3 separate regions of the Homo sapiens genome follow, and regions 1 and 2 are each linked to region 3. The links come from fine-mapping of genetic effects on gene expression. A gene starts in region 3. Each other region holds a variant in brackets. All regions are shown on one strand. Distances are between the middles of the regions. Region 1 overlaps RCOR3 (REST corepressor 3). Region 2 has its middle 41 kb from the start of RD3. Region 3 holds the start of TRAF5 (TNF receptor associated factor 5).

What was found. PIP is the estimated chance that this variant, and not a neighbour inherited with it, causes the effect. A credible set is the group of variants that fine-mapping cannot tell apart.
Region 1: its variant is the best candidate, but not a certain one, in a credible set for the expression of TRAF5 in whole blood (TOPMed, PIP 0.76).
Region 2: its variant is the best candidate, but not a certain one, in a credible set for the expression of TRAF5 in whole blood (INTERVAL, PIP 0.67).

Annotation. Positions count from the first base shown.
Region 1 is chr1:211,282,073-211,286,072 of GRCh38, reverse strand. The region is part of intron 7 of RCOR3 (REST corepressor 3); the gene reads right to left. Among named protein-coding and RNA genes, the nearest start is that of RCOR3, 25 kb to the right of the region's middle. The variant A/G (reference allele first, on the strand shown) is at 2,332.
Region 2 is chr1:211,448,926-211,453,276 of GRCh38, reverse strand. No RefSeq gene overlaps it. Among named protein-coding and RNA genes, the nearest start is that of RD3, 41 kb to the left of the region's middle. The variant TG/G (reference allele first, on the strand shown) is at 2,457.
Region 3 is chr1:211,324,794-211,329,144 of GRCh38, reverse strand. TRAF5 (TNF receptor associated factor 5) reads right to left here and starts at 2,312. Exons shown (of 11, transcript NM_001033910.3): 1 at 2,256-2,312. RefSeq lists a silencer at 2,018-2,387 and enhancers at 2,448-2,837, 3,107-3,608.

The DNA of each region.
Region 1 (4,000 bases), 43 kb after region 3:
AGACACATACTTAACATGTGAGGACACAGAAATGTTGAAAGTAAAATGATAAAGATAAACCAGGCAAATACTTAACAGAAGAAAAATGGTGGAGCTATCAACATAACAGATAAAATAATCTTCAAGGCAGAAGCCAATAAAAGAGACCCTACATATTGATAAAAGGCTCAATTCAGCAGCAAGATAAAACAATTTGTATGCACCTAATAACACTAACTTCAACATATAAAAAACTACTTCTCAGTAATTGAGTGATCAGAATAATTGATCACATAAGCAGACAACAAAAACCAAGCTATCAAGTAGGCAAGCAGTAAGAATATGGATTTCAACTACAGAACTGACAAACCTAAATTAATGGACATATATAAAACCTTGTTACCAAGATAATATCCCTAAGCACACATGGGAAAACATTTATGAAAATTCCATACTCTGGGCTTGGAGGTTTAAAACATGTCAACAAATTCCTCAACATTCCTGCCATGGGGAAGCAGGGGTCTATATTCCTTCCCCTTGATTCTGAACCAACTTTAGTAACTCACTTATAACCACTGAATGCAAGAGAAGTGACTCTGAGTAACTTTCAAGGCTAGGCCAGAAACAGCTGAGTAGTTTCCACTTAGTGCTTCCGGGATTGATTACGTTGGAGGAAACCAGCCATTATGGCAAGAAGTTAGATTACTCAGAGACCACCAAATTGGAGAGGCCAAATGGAATTGCTCCAACCTACAGCTAGCATCAACTACCAGCAATGTGAATGAGTCAAAAACCTTTAATAACAACCTACTTGATGTTGAAACAAAAACGATTCTCTTTACGATCAGAAAAATGTTCCCTATCATATCTTCTATTCAAATTATATTGGTGATACTAACCAGTTCAGCAAGAGAAGAAATAAGATACAAGGACTAAAAAGAAACAAAATAGCTATTATTTTCAGGTAATATAAATCACTATATAGGAAATCAAAAGTAATACAAATAAGTTATGAAGAGCAAAGGTCCAAGAATAACCAAGGTACACACTCCTTAAGAAGAACCACCAAATAGCAGAACTTACCCTAGCAACTATCAAGACTTATGAGGCTTATTATAAGTAATTGAAAAAATGTGGGATTAGCAAGGAATATTTAACTGACAACAGAAGCAGAATAGAGAGCCAGGCATATGCGTAAGCCTCATATAAAATAAAGCTGGTATTGCAGACCAGTTGAAAAAGATATTCAATTCCGTATTAAAAAATAAATAGCCAGGCATGGTAGGGCTCACACCTGTTATCCCAGCACTTTGGGAGGCCAAGGTGGGAGGATCACTTGAGCCCAGAAGCTCAAGACCAGTCTGGACAATGTAGCAAGACCCCATCTCTACAAAAAGTTTTTTAAAAAATTAGCTGGGTGTGGTGGTGCATGCCTGTAGTCCCAGCTACTTAGGAGGCAAGAGGATGGCTTGAGCCCAGGAATTTGTGCCAGAAGTGAGCTATGATTGTGTCACTGGCACACTAGCCTGGGTGACAAAACAAGACCCCCAACTGTTAAATAAATACATAAATAAATAAATAAATAAATAAAGGATCTCTACCTCACAACATGAACTTATTTACTGCTACAGCAAGGACTTCAATGTAAAAAGAGAAAAAGTTTAAAATTTTCAAAAGAAAATGTAAAAGAATACTGGAATTTAAATTTAAAATTGGCCGGGCACAGTGGCTCACGCCTGTAATCCCAGCACTTTGGGAGGCTGAGGCGGATGCATCACAAGGTCAGGAGATCGAGACCATCCTGACTAACACAGTGAAACACCGTCTCTACTAAAAATACAAAAAACAAACAAACAAACAAACAAAAAAACAATTAGCCAGGCGTGGTGGCAGGCGCTTGTAGTCCCAGTTACTCAGGAGGCTGAGGTAGGAGAATGGCGTGAACACGGCAGGTAGGGCTTGCAGCGAGCCGAGATCCCGCCACTGCACTCCAGCCTGGGCGACAGAGCGAGACTCCATCTCAAAAAAATAAATAAATAAATAAAATAAAATAAAATAAATAAATAATAAATTTAAAATTTATATGCTTTTGATGAAATAGCTGTTTACTTCCCTGTAGAGAGTAAAAACACAAACCACAAACTGGCAAAAGATATTTGCTGTTAACCAAAGGACTCGTATCCAGAATATACAAAGAATTCAATAAGAAAAAACTTTTTATATTCAGTCTTTAAGAAAAAGACAAATACGCAGTGGAAAAATGGGTGAAAAAAAAAAAAAATACAAGCCAGGCATGCTGGCTCACGTCTGCAATCCCAGCTACTTGGGAGCATGAAGCAGGCGGATCATTTG[A/G]GCCCAGAAGTTTGAGGCTGCAGTGGCTATGATCACACAACTGCACACTAGCTTGGGCAATAAGCAAGATTCTGTCTCTAAAAAAACAAAACAAAAACCTCCACGAACGAAACATATAACAACAGCTAATAAACAGATAGAAAAACATTCAGCCTCAGTAGTTACCTGATGAATGAAACTGAGGACACAATGAAATGCCTTCTCATATTGCCAGATTTGGAACATTTTAAAAGTCTGATCAAGCATTGGCAAGGAAGTATACAATGGGTATTCTCACAGTCTAGTGGAGGTATATCAGCTATAGAAAACAATTATGCCATTACCTAGGAAAGTTTAATGTGGCTATTCCCTAAAATAGAGTGACTCCATTCCAAAGAATCCTGGGACCCTGTTACTCAGTAAATCACTGTTGGCATTTTGGTGAAACAATCTGTGCTTTGCACTTCAGTATAGTTGTCACCCCTTTCTCCTGCCCACTCGACAACTGAAATGCCCCACAATCACTGTTAACAATGAAAACACCTCCATAATTTCTAAATGTCCCCTATGGGGTCAGTGCTAAACCTAGCTGAGAACTATTGTACCAAAGGAACTCTCAGACATGTGTATCCAGAACATGTTCATATCAGCAGTGTCCGTAATAAAAAGCTGGAAATTAAGTTTATTAATTGGAGAGTGAATAAGTTGCAGTATATGTATACAATGGAACACTATAATATAGCAATAAAAATGAATCGCAAAAATAATAACAAAAGGCAAGTACTGAAGAATACATACAATATGATTCCAATTAAATAAAGTATGAAATAAATGAAACTAAATGATAATCATATCATCATATGTGATTATATATATGTGATAAAACTATAAAGAAAGAAGTGAATAATTTAGAAATTTCATTATAGTGGTTCCCTCTAGAGAGAAGGTGAGACTATGCAATTGAGGCCGGGCACGGTGGCTCACGCCTGTAATCCCAGCACTCTGGGAAGCTGAGGCAGGTGGATCACCTGAGGTCAGGAGTTCTAGACCAGCCTAGCCAACATGGCGAAACCCCATTTCTACTAAAAATACAAAAATTAGCCAGGCATGGTGACGCATGCCTGTAGTCCCAGCTACTCGGGAGGCTGAGGCAGGAGAATTGCTTGAGCCCAGGTGGAGGTTGCAGTGAGCCGAGATCGTGCCACTGCACTCCAGCCTGGGCGACAGAGTGAGACTCCCTCTCAAAAAAAAAAAAAAAACAAGAATATCCAATTGAGGAAACACAAACAGGACTTCTGTTTCTTCAGCTCAGTGGTAGATACACTGGTATCTATTATTTTTCTTTAAATAGTTCACAACTTTTAAAAGTTAAAATTAAAACTTTCTATGTAATATGTTAACAACATGCAGAAGCAGCTACAAAGATCTATATTAAAAGCAATAATGTAGTTTCTTTCCCTGCCTGGTATCCTTATTGTTTGGAATGAGCAGAGAAATGAATGAAGCTGCTGACACATAGTGCTAGTCTTGGACCACACCTCTGCAGTATCCTCTTAAAACTTTTTAACTTATACTCCCCTCATATTATTTTCTGGTAAGATGAGATCATAAGCAAACAAAAGACCAAATGAGTATGCATCATCTTGCATAGTTGGGCAAAACTATATATTCCATATATATACATACATAT
Region 2 (4,351 bases), 120 kb before region 3:
CATTTGGTTATTCATAGTAAGTCATTAATGATCTTTTGAATTTTTGCAATATCAGTTGTAATGTCTCCTTTTTTGTTTCTGATTTTATTTGTATCTTCTCTGCTTTCTTCTTAGGTAATCTGGTTAAAGGTTTGTCAATTTGGTTTAACTTTTCTTTTTTTTTTTTCCTGAGACTAAGTCTCGATCTCGGCTCACTGCAACTTCCGCTTCCTGGGTTCAAACGATTCTCCTGCCTCAGCCTCCTGAGTAGCTGGGATTACAGGCACCTGACACCATGCCCAGCTAGTTTTTTTTGTATTTTTAGTAGAGACAGGGTTTCACCATGTTGGCCAGGCTGGTCTCAAACTCCTGACCTCAGGTGATCCACCCGCCTCGGTCTCTCAAAGTACTGGGATTACAGGCATGAGCCACCGTGCCCAGCCTGGTTTAACTTTTCAAAACAACAATATTTTGTTTCATTGATCTTTTGGGTTTATTGCAATTTTATTTCTTTCTGCTCTGATCTTTATTATTTCTTTTCTTCTACTAATTTTAGGTTTGGTTTGCTCTTGCTCTTCTAGTTCTTTTTTTATTTTCTTAGCCTCCCTCACCCCCTGCCACCTTCTGGTTCTTTAAGATGCATTGCCAGATTGTTTATTTGAAGTTTTCCCAAAGTGCTGGGTGGCTCACACATGTAATCCTAGCACTTTGGGAGGCCGAGGTGGGCAGGTCACTTGAGCTCAGGAGTTTGAGACCAGCCTTGGAAACATGGCAAAGCCCTATCTCTACAAAAAATTAGCCAGGTGTGATGGCACACACCTGTAGTCCCAGCTCCTTGAGGGGCCTGAAGTGGGAGGATCACCTGAGCCTGGAAGGTCTCAGCTGCAGTGAGCTGTGATTGTGCCATTGCACTCCAGCCTGGGTGACAGGTGACAGAGTGAGACTCTGTCTCAAAAAAAAAAAAGAAAAGAAAAGAAAGAAAGAAAGAAAAGAAGAAAAGAAAGGAAAAAAAGAGAGAGAAAGAAAGAAAAGAAGAAAAGAAAGGAAAGAAAGAAAGAAAGAAAGAAAGAGAAAGAAAGAAAGAAAGAGAAAGAAAGAAAGAAAGAAAGAAAGAAAGAAAGAAAGAAAGAGAAAGTCTTCCTCTTTTTTGATGTAGGCACTTGTAGCTATAAATTCCCTCTTAGTACTGCTTTTGCTGTATCCTATGTTTTGGTATGTGTGTTTCCATAATCATTTGTTTCAAGAAGCTTTTCAATTTCCTTCTAAATTTCTTCATTGACCCACTGGTCATTCAGGAGGATATTGTTTAATTTCCATATATTTGCATAGTTTCCAAGATTCCTCATGTTATTAATTTCTAGTTTTATTCCATTGTGGTCAGAGAAGATGCTTAAATTTTTTTGAATGTTTTAAGACTTGTTTCATAACCTAACATATGGTCTATCCTTGAGAATAATCATGTGTTGAGGAAAAGTATGTGTATTCTGCAGCTGTTGGATGAAATGTTCTGTAAATATCTATTAGATCCATTTGGTCTACAGTGTAGATTAAGTCTGATGTTTCTTTGTTGATTTTCTGTCTGGAAGATCTGTCCAATGCTGAAAGTGGGGTCCTGAAGTCTCCAGCTATTATCATATCAAGGCCTATCTCTCTCTTTAGCTCCAATAATATTTGCTTTATATATGTGGGTGATCCAGTGTTGGGTGCATATATATTTAAAATTGTTATATTCTCTTGCTGAATTGACCCCTTTATCATTATATAGAGACTTTCTTTGCCTCTTCTTATAGTTTTGGTCTTGAAATTTATTTGTTTGATGTAAGTATACCAACTCCTGCTCTTTTTTGGTTTCCATTGGCATGGAATATCTTTTTCCATCCCTTTATTTTCAGTTTATGTGGGTCTTTATAGGTGAAGTGTGTTTCTTATAGAAATAAATCAATGGGTCTTGTTTATTCATCTATTCTGCCACTCTACGCCTTTGACTTGAGAGTTTAGTCCATTTACATTTAATATTATTATTGATAAGTAAGGACTTACTCCTGCCATTTTGTTATTTGTTTTCTGGTTGTTTTGTGTTTTTTTCTTCCTTCTTTTTTATTTTTCTCTTTTTAAGGCTAGTCAATATTTCTTTTTTCCTTCTTGTCTTCCTTTAGTTATGATGATTTTCTTTGGTGATATGATTTAGTTTCTTGCTTTTTATTTTTTGTGTCTCTATTGTATGTTTTTTGGTTTGAGGTTACCATGAGGCTTGCTGATACTATCTTATGATCCATCATTTTAACCTGATAACAAGTTAACACCGTTTGCATAAAGAAACAATCAAAAAGAAAGTGAATAAAAACTCTATGCCTTAACTTCATCCCCTTGCTTTTTAACTTTTTATTGTCTCTATTTTTATCTTATTTTACCAACTATGTCTTGAAAAGTTGTTGCAGTTATTTTTGATTGGCTCATCTTTTTTTTTTTTTTTTTTT[TG/G]AGAATGGGTCTCACTCTGTTGCCCAGGCTGGAGTGCAGTGGTGCAATCTCTGCTCACTGCAGCCTCCACCTCCCATGTTCAAGTGATTCTCCTGCCTCATCTTTCTGAGTAGCAGGAATTACAGGTGCCCGGCACCACGCCCAACTAACTTTTGTATTTTTTATAGAGATGGGGTTTTGCCATGTTGGCCAGGCTGGTCTTGAACTCCCGACCTCAAGTGATCCACCCACCTCAGCCTTCCAAAGTGCTGGGATTACAGGTGTGAGCCACCGACTGCACCCAGCCTGGTTCATCATTTAGTCTTTCTACTTAGGATGAGTAGTTTACACACCACAGTTACAGCATAATAATATTCTGTGTACTATTAACAGTGAGTTTTGTACCTTTGGGTGATCACTTATTGCTCATTAATGTCCTGAATGAAGTACTCCCTTTAGCATTTGTTGTAGAACAGGTGTGGTGTTGATGAAATCCCTCAGCTTTTGTTTGTCTGGGAAAGTCTTTATTTCTCCTTCATGCTTGAAGAATGTTTTTGCTGAATATACTATTCTAGGGTAAAAGATTTTTTCCTTCATCACTTCAAATATGTCATGACATTCTTTCCTGGCCACTGAAAAATCTGCTGCTAAATGTATTGGCACTCCAATGTATATTATCTGTTTCTTTTCTCTTGATGCTTTTAGGGTCCTTTCTTTATCTTTGACCTTTGGGAGTTTGATTATTAAATGCCTTGAGATGGCATTCTTTGGGTTAAATCTGCTTGATGTTCTATAACCTTCTTGTACTTGGATACTGATATCTTTCTCTAGGTTTGGGGAGTTCTCTGTTATTATCCCTTTTGAATAAACTTTCTACCCCTATCTCTTCTCTACTTCCTCTTTAAGGCCAATAACACTTAGATTTGCCCTTTTTAAGCTATTTGCTAGATCCTGTAGGTGCGTTTTTATTTTTTCTTTTGTCTCTTCTGTGTATTTTCAAATAAACTGTCTTCCAGCTCACTAATTCTTTCTTCTGCTTGATCAATGCTGCTAAAGGGCTCTGATGAATTTTTCAGTATGCCAACTGCATTTTTTTTTTCAGCCAGAGTTTCGCCGTTGTTACCCAGGCAGGAGTGCAATGGCGTGACCTTGGCTCACTGCAACCTCCGTCTCCCGGGTTCAAGCTATTCTCCTGCCTCAGCCTCCCAAGTAGCTGGGATTACAGGTGCCTGCCACCACATCCAGCTAATTTTTGTTTTTTAGTAGAGACGGGGTTTCACCATCTTGGCCAGGCTGGTCTCGAACTCCTGACCTCAGGTGATCTGCCCACCTTGGCCTCCCAAAGTGCTGGGATCACAGGCGTGAGCCATCTTGCTTGGCTGCCAACTGCATTTTTCAGCTCAAGAATTTCTGCTTGATTTTAAAAAATTATTTTAGTCTCTTTTTAAAATTTATCTGATAGAATTCTGAATTCCTTCTGTTATCTTAAATTTCTTAGAGTTTCCTCAACACAGCTATTTTAAATTATCCATCTGAAAGGTCACATATCTCTTTCTCCAGGATTGGTACCTGGTACCTTATTTAGTTCATTTGGTGAGGTCATGTTTTCCTAGATGGTGATAATGCTAGTAGATGTTCTTCAGTGTCTGGGCATTGAAGAATTATTTACTGTAGTCTTCACTGCCTGGGCTTATTTGTATCTATCCTTCTTGGGAAGGCGTTCCAGATATTTGAAAGGACCTAGGTGTTGTGATCTAAGCTGTATCTGCTTTAGGGAGCACCCCAAGGCCAGTAATGCTGTGGTTCTTGAAGACTCATGATGGTCTTGGACAAGATCTGGGAGACTTCTCTGGATTACCAGGAGAGACTCTTGTTCTCTTCCTTTACTTTATCCCAGAGTATTTCTCTTTGTTCT
Region 3 (4,351 bases):
ATGTCTGTTCTTGTGGTGGTTAGGCCAGAGTCTCCAGCAGAACTTGCTCCATGTTGCTGGGGACAGACCACAGAGGCATTATCAGAATCTGGGTCCCCTTGCTGACCCCTCAGACGGAGGAAGAGGTGGGCAGATATGGCTCTCTGAGAAGCCAGGGTGAGGGGCCTGGAGCAGGGGAACAAGACACCTCAATGCTCTGATCCTGGTCCAGCAGTGGAGCTCAGGGAGCTATTTACCGCCTCAGTGCTTCACCCTCACAATCTGAGAGATGTAGAGAATAAGCCTGCTCTAACTCATGAGGGCGTCATGGAGGACGAAATGAGAACAAAACGACAAGAACAAAGAGAAAATGCTTTGCAAAGGAACGAGCTTTACAAACAAATAATTATTTTTCCTTCAAGGTCCTCCCCAGTAAAGCTGAGCTAATCAGAGGAGGTTTGTCTAAGTACTGAGGTGCCTTTCCCACTGCAAGCCTAACAAGACTGACTCTGAGGCATCTAGCTCCCCGACTGTGCAAATCATCCCCACTGAAACATCCCAGTCCCTATCGTCAGGACGTTCAGTGGACGGCAGCTCTTTTCCACACTCTTTCCATCGCCCTACTACCCAAGTCCAGCGGGCTTGCTGCTGACAGAGGGAAATACCACCATCCTACCCTGCCCGTCACAACAGGCCTCTCAGCCCAGAGGCCGTGGGAGAAGTCGCCTTCTCCATCACTTCCCATGTTCCAGATGCTGGCTCAGACACTTTCTCCTGCCTCTGTCCAGGAGCCAGGGATCTGAGAGGTGATCCATTCCATAGAGTTACAACAAAAACAGTAACTGTAACAAAATCAAAAACCTTTACAGAAGCTAGGCGTTTTCCACTTCCATCTTACATCCATCGTTCCTGCAGCAATTTCTGTCTTTCTAGTTCAAATTAGAGTTAGGGATGGAAGTGTTTCCACCCAAACCATCAATTACATTAACACCCCTGTTTTCAGCTTTGTGAGTACATAAGGCAGAGCAGCTGCACTGGGATTTGAGAGTTCCTAGCCCAGCCTTTTGCTGCCTAAAATTATCTCGCACACACCCAAAACTGTTCTATTTCCAGAAATGGTTCAACTAATTTCTTTGCATCTCAGGTCTTCCAGAGCCCTTTTAAAATGCAAGTATCTCTGGAGGAAATAACCATATTCCACTGGCCCCAGCCCAGTTCTCACACAGCACCTGCCCAATAAATATTTACAGAATTAAACTGGTTACCAGATGCCTATCCTCACAGGAGGTGGGTCAGAGCCCAAGGCTATGGAGGGTGGGGGCTGCAGGGGCAGCCCTGGCAGGGAGCCTCGCCTGGTTTCACCAACCTCAATGCTCGCCTGAGGCAGCTCTGCCTGCCACAGCGAGATAACTGAGTTCTCATGAAAGTAAATCTGAAATACCCAAATATGGAAACTTAGCAGAAGGAGGCCGAATGAGCAGAGAAAGTCGGCCAGCCAGAGTGGCCCAGTGGGACCCGCAGCAAGAGCGTGGCCCCGAAAATTCTCAGAACCACCAAGACCCTGCAGAACAGGAACAAAGTGGAGACCATCTGGTACGGAGAACTCAGAATCTGCGAATTCTCTGGGTGCCTCTGGGCAACTCCTTCCACCTCTCGGAGCTTTGGTTTGCGTCAAGGTTCCTTAGAGCTCGCCTTCTGGGGGAGGGGGGTAGCTGCTTTCTAAAGGAAGACGCGCAAACGAACAGCTGGTAGAGGCTTCCATTCCTTGCAATCCTGAAGTTTCATTCTGGAGTTGCTTTGATTGGAAAGCCCTGCAAAGGTGGAGAGGGTGCCTTCGGGTGCGGAAGGGGGCCAGGGCCTGGTTTGCAGTGCGGATGTGCGGGACGTGCCTGAAAGTCCTCCCCGCCAGTGCACCCCGACGGAACCTGGCCCCTCCGGTCCACAGCCGCCCTCTGGACCAGCTCCCCAGCTTTGGACCCCCAGTCTCCGCCCTCGCCACACCTCTCCCCGGCTAAGAAACCCGCTCCGCACCGCTCCCGCTGTCCCCGGGCCGTCGGCGGTCACCTGCCCCGCCGGTCTCCCGCAAGCCCGGGCCCCTCCGCCTCCCCCGGCCCAGCCGCCGCCTCGCGCCCTCCCCGCCGGTCGGGGACCGGCCGGACGCCAGCAGGCGCTTTCGGTTTCAAAGTAACTGGGACGAGATGAAAAGCGCTCGTCGGTGTCCCCACCCCGGCCCTTCCGTCGCGAGGGTGCCCAGGGCGGCGACCCGCCGGACTCACGTGGGGCTCGGCGCGCGGGCTCCGCGAGGCCGGTCTGCAGGCGCGGCTGCTGCTCCTGGCTGCGGCCGGCGGCGGCGGCGAAGCGGAGGCGAGGCCTGGGGCGGGGCCGGGGCGCGGGCGGAGGGGCGCGGGCGGGCGCAGGGGAAGAGCGGACGCGCAGGAAGGGGTCGGGAGGAGGCTGAGACCGTCATCCAGGCGGTTGGAAAGCTAACCTACCCGCTTCAGAACCGTTAGTATCTACAAGTCCAGTCATCTGATTTCCCTCACGTGCGTCTGAATTGTGGCCGTCTTGCTCTTCCGTCAGGCACAACAAGGCTCAGCCCGTCCTCTCCTGTGTTGACCCATTTGCTCAAGGCCTTGCTTGAGATCTGGCTCAAATCAGTCCTTCCTGGACTTTCCTTCAGGGTAGCACAAATTTGCCAGCCCTCCTCTTGCTGTTGGCCTAACACCAGCAATCTCTGAGAGTTGTAGAGCTCCCCGGTTGGCTTCCCAAACATCTCCTGTGGTCCTCAAAACAAGCTGGTGAAGTAGGCCTGGTCATCCCCATTTTACAGATGAGCTGTCTGAGGGCCAGAGCAGCAACGTGGAGTGACGTACCCAAGGTTAGACACGCTCAGCAAGCTCTGCAGCTGGAACTTGAATCCAGGTCTGCTGTCTGCCTGTCTCTCTCCCTCTCTCTCTCTCTATACGTATTTTTTATTTTATTTTATTTTTTGAGACGGAGTCTCGCTCTCACGCCAGGCTGGAGTGCGGTGACGCGATCTCGGCTCACTGCAACCCTGGCCTCCCAGGTTCAAGCAATTCTCCTGCCTCAGCCTCCCGAGTAGCTGGGATTACAAGCATGTGCCACCACGCCGGGCTAATTTTTGTACTTTTAGTAGAGACGGGGTTTCACCATGTTGGTCAGGCTGGTCTCATCTCTTGACCTTGTGATCCGCCTGCCTTGCCCTCCCAACAGGCGTGAGCCACCGCGCTTGGCCTGCGCACTCTTAGATACGGGCTCTTTCTTACAATATATTCTCTCCAAGGGCAATACATTCTATATAAATGAAATGGACCAAAATTCCAATTCTATCTAGATCCTTTACTTTCAGTTAGGCCACCGTGGGAAAAGTACTTAACTGCTCTGAGTTTCAGTTACCGTCCTCGTCAATAAAAGGGGAGAATAATACACACCTTGGGAGTCAAAAACTCAGATGTGCACAGGAGCTCGGCAGGAAACATACAGGAGGGAGGCAGAGGTTGTGGTCATGGAGAAAGGAGGGAGGCGCTGGTGCACTAAAGAGCAGGTGGAGGATCTAGTGGAGCAGCCACCACCCAGTGCCAGCCTATTGTTACCTGATCTCTTATTTCTCCAAAGAGCCAGAAATCCAGATCCAAACCTTTTTTGGTTGGTGAGTTAGATGAACCGCTCCGTGGGGGAGAGGCACTGGTGGGTGTTGCTTTGGGACTGTAGATCTGTCTCATAATCTTCTCATGAGAATTAAATGAGATGGCACTCCTGTACGCCTAACACAGAGTAGGTGCTTAGTGAACCCAAGTTCTCCTTCCTGTTCTGCCATACACTATACTTTCCCTCTCTTTTTGTGGGTGTGTATTTTTTGAGAGAGGTTCTCACTCTGTCACCCAGGCTGGAGTGCAGGGGCATGATCACAGCTCACTGCAGGCTGGATCTCCTGGGCTCAAGTAATTCTGCCGCTTCAGCCCCCAGAGTAGCTGGGACTACAGGCACACACCACTACGCCCACCTCCCCCAGCTCCTTTTTTTTTTTTTTTTTTTTTGAAGAGATGGAGACTTACTATGTTGCCCAGGCTGGTCTCAAACTCCTGGGTTTAAGCGATCCTCCCACCTCGACCTCCCAAAGTGCTGGGATTAAATGTGCAAGCCACTACGTCCCACCCGCTTTCTCTTACCATTGCCTGCTTCTTGCCTCTCTTCTCATTACTTCCAAGCATAATAAAGTTGATACTGTTTTTTAGAAGTTATATCTCCTTTCACTGGCTGGAACATCAGTGTCTAGTATGCATACATGCAGGTATGCTCAGAATCCCTGGTCCTGTCATTGACTGTAATTTGCTTCTCTCTCCTACTCCTC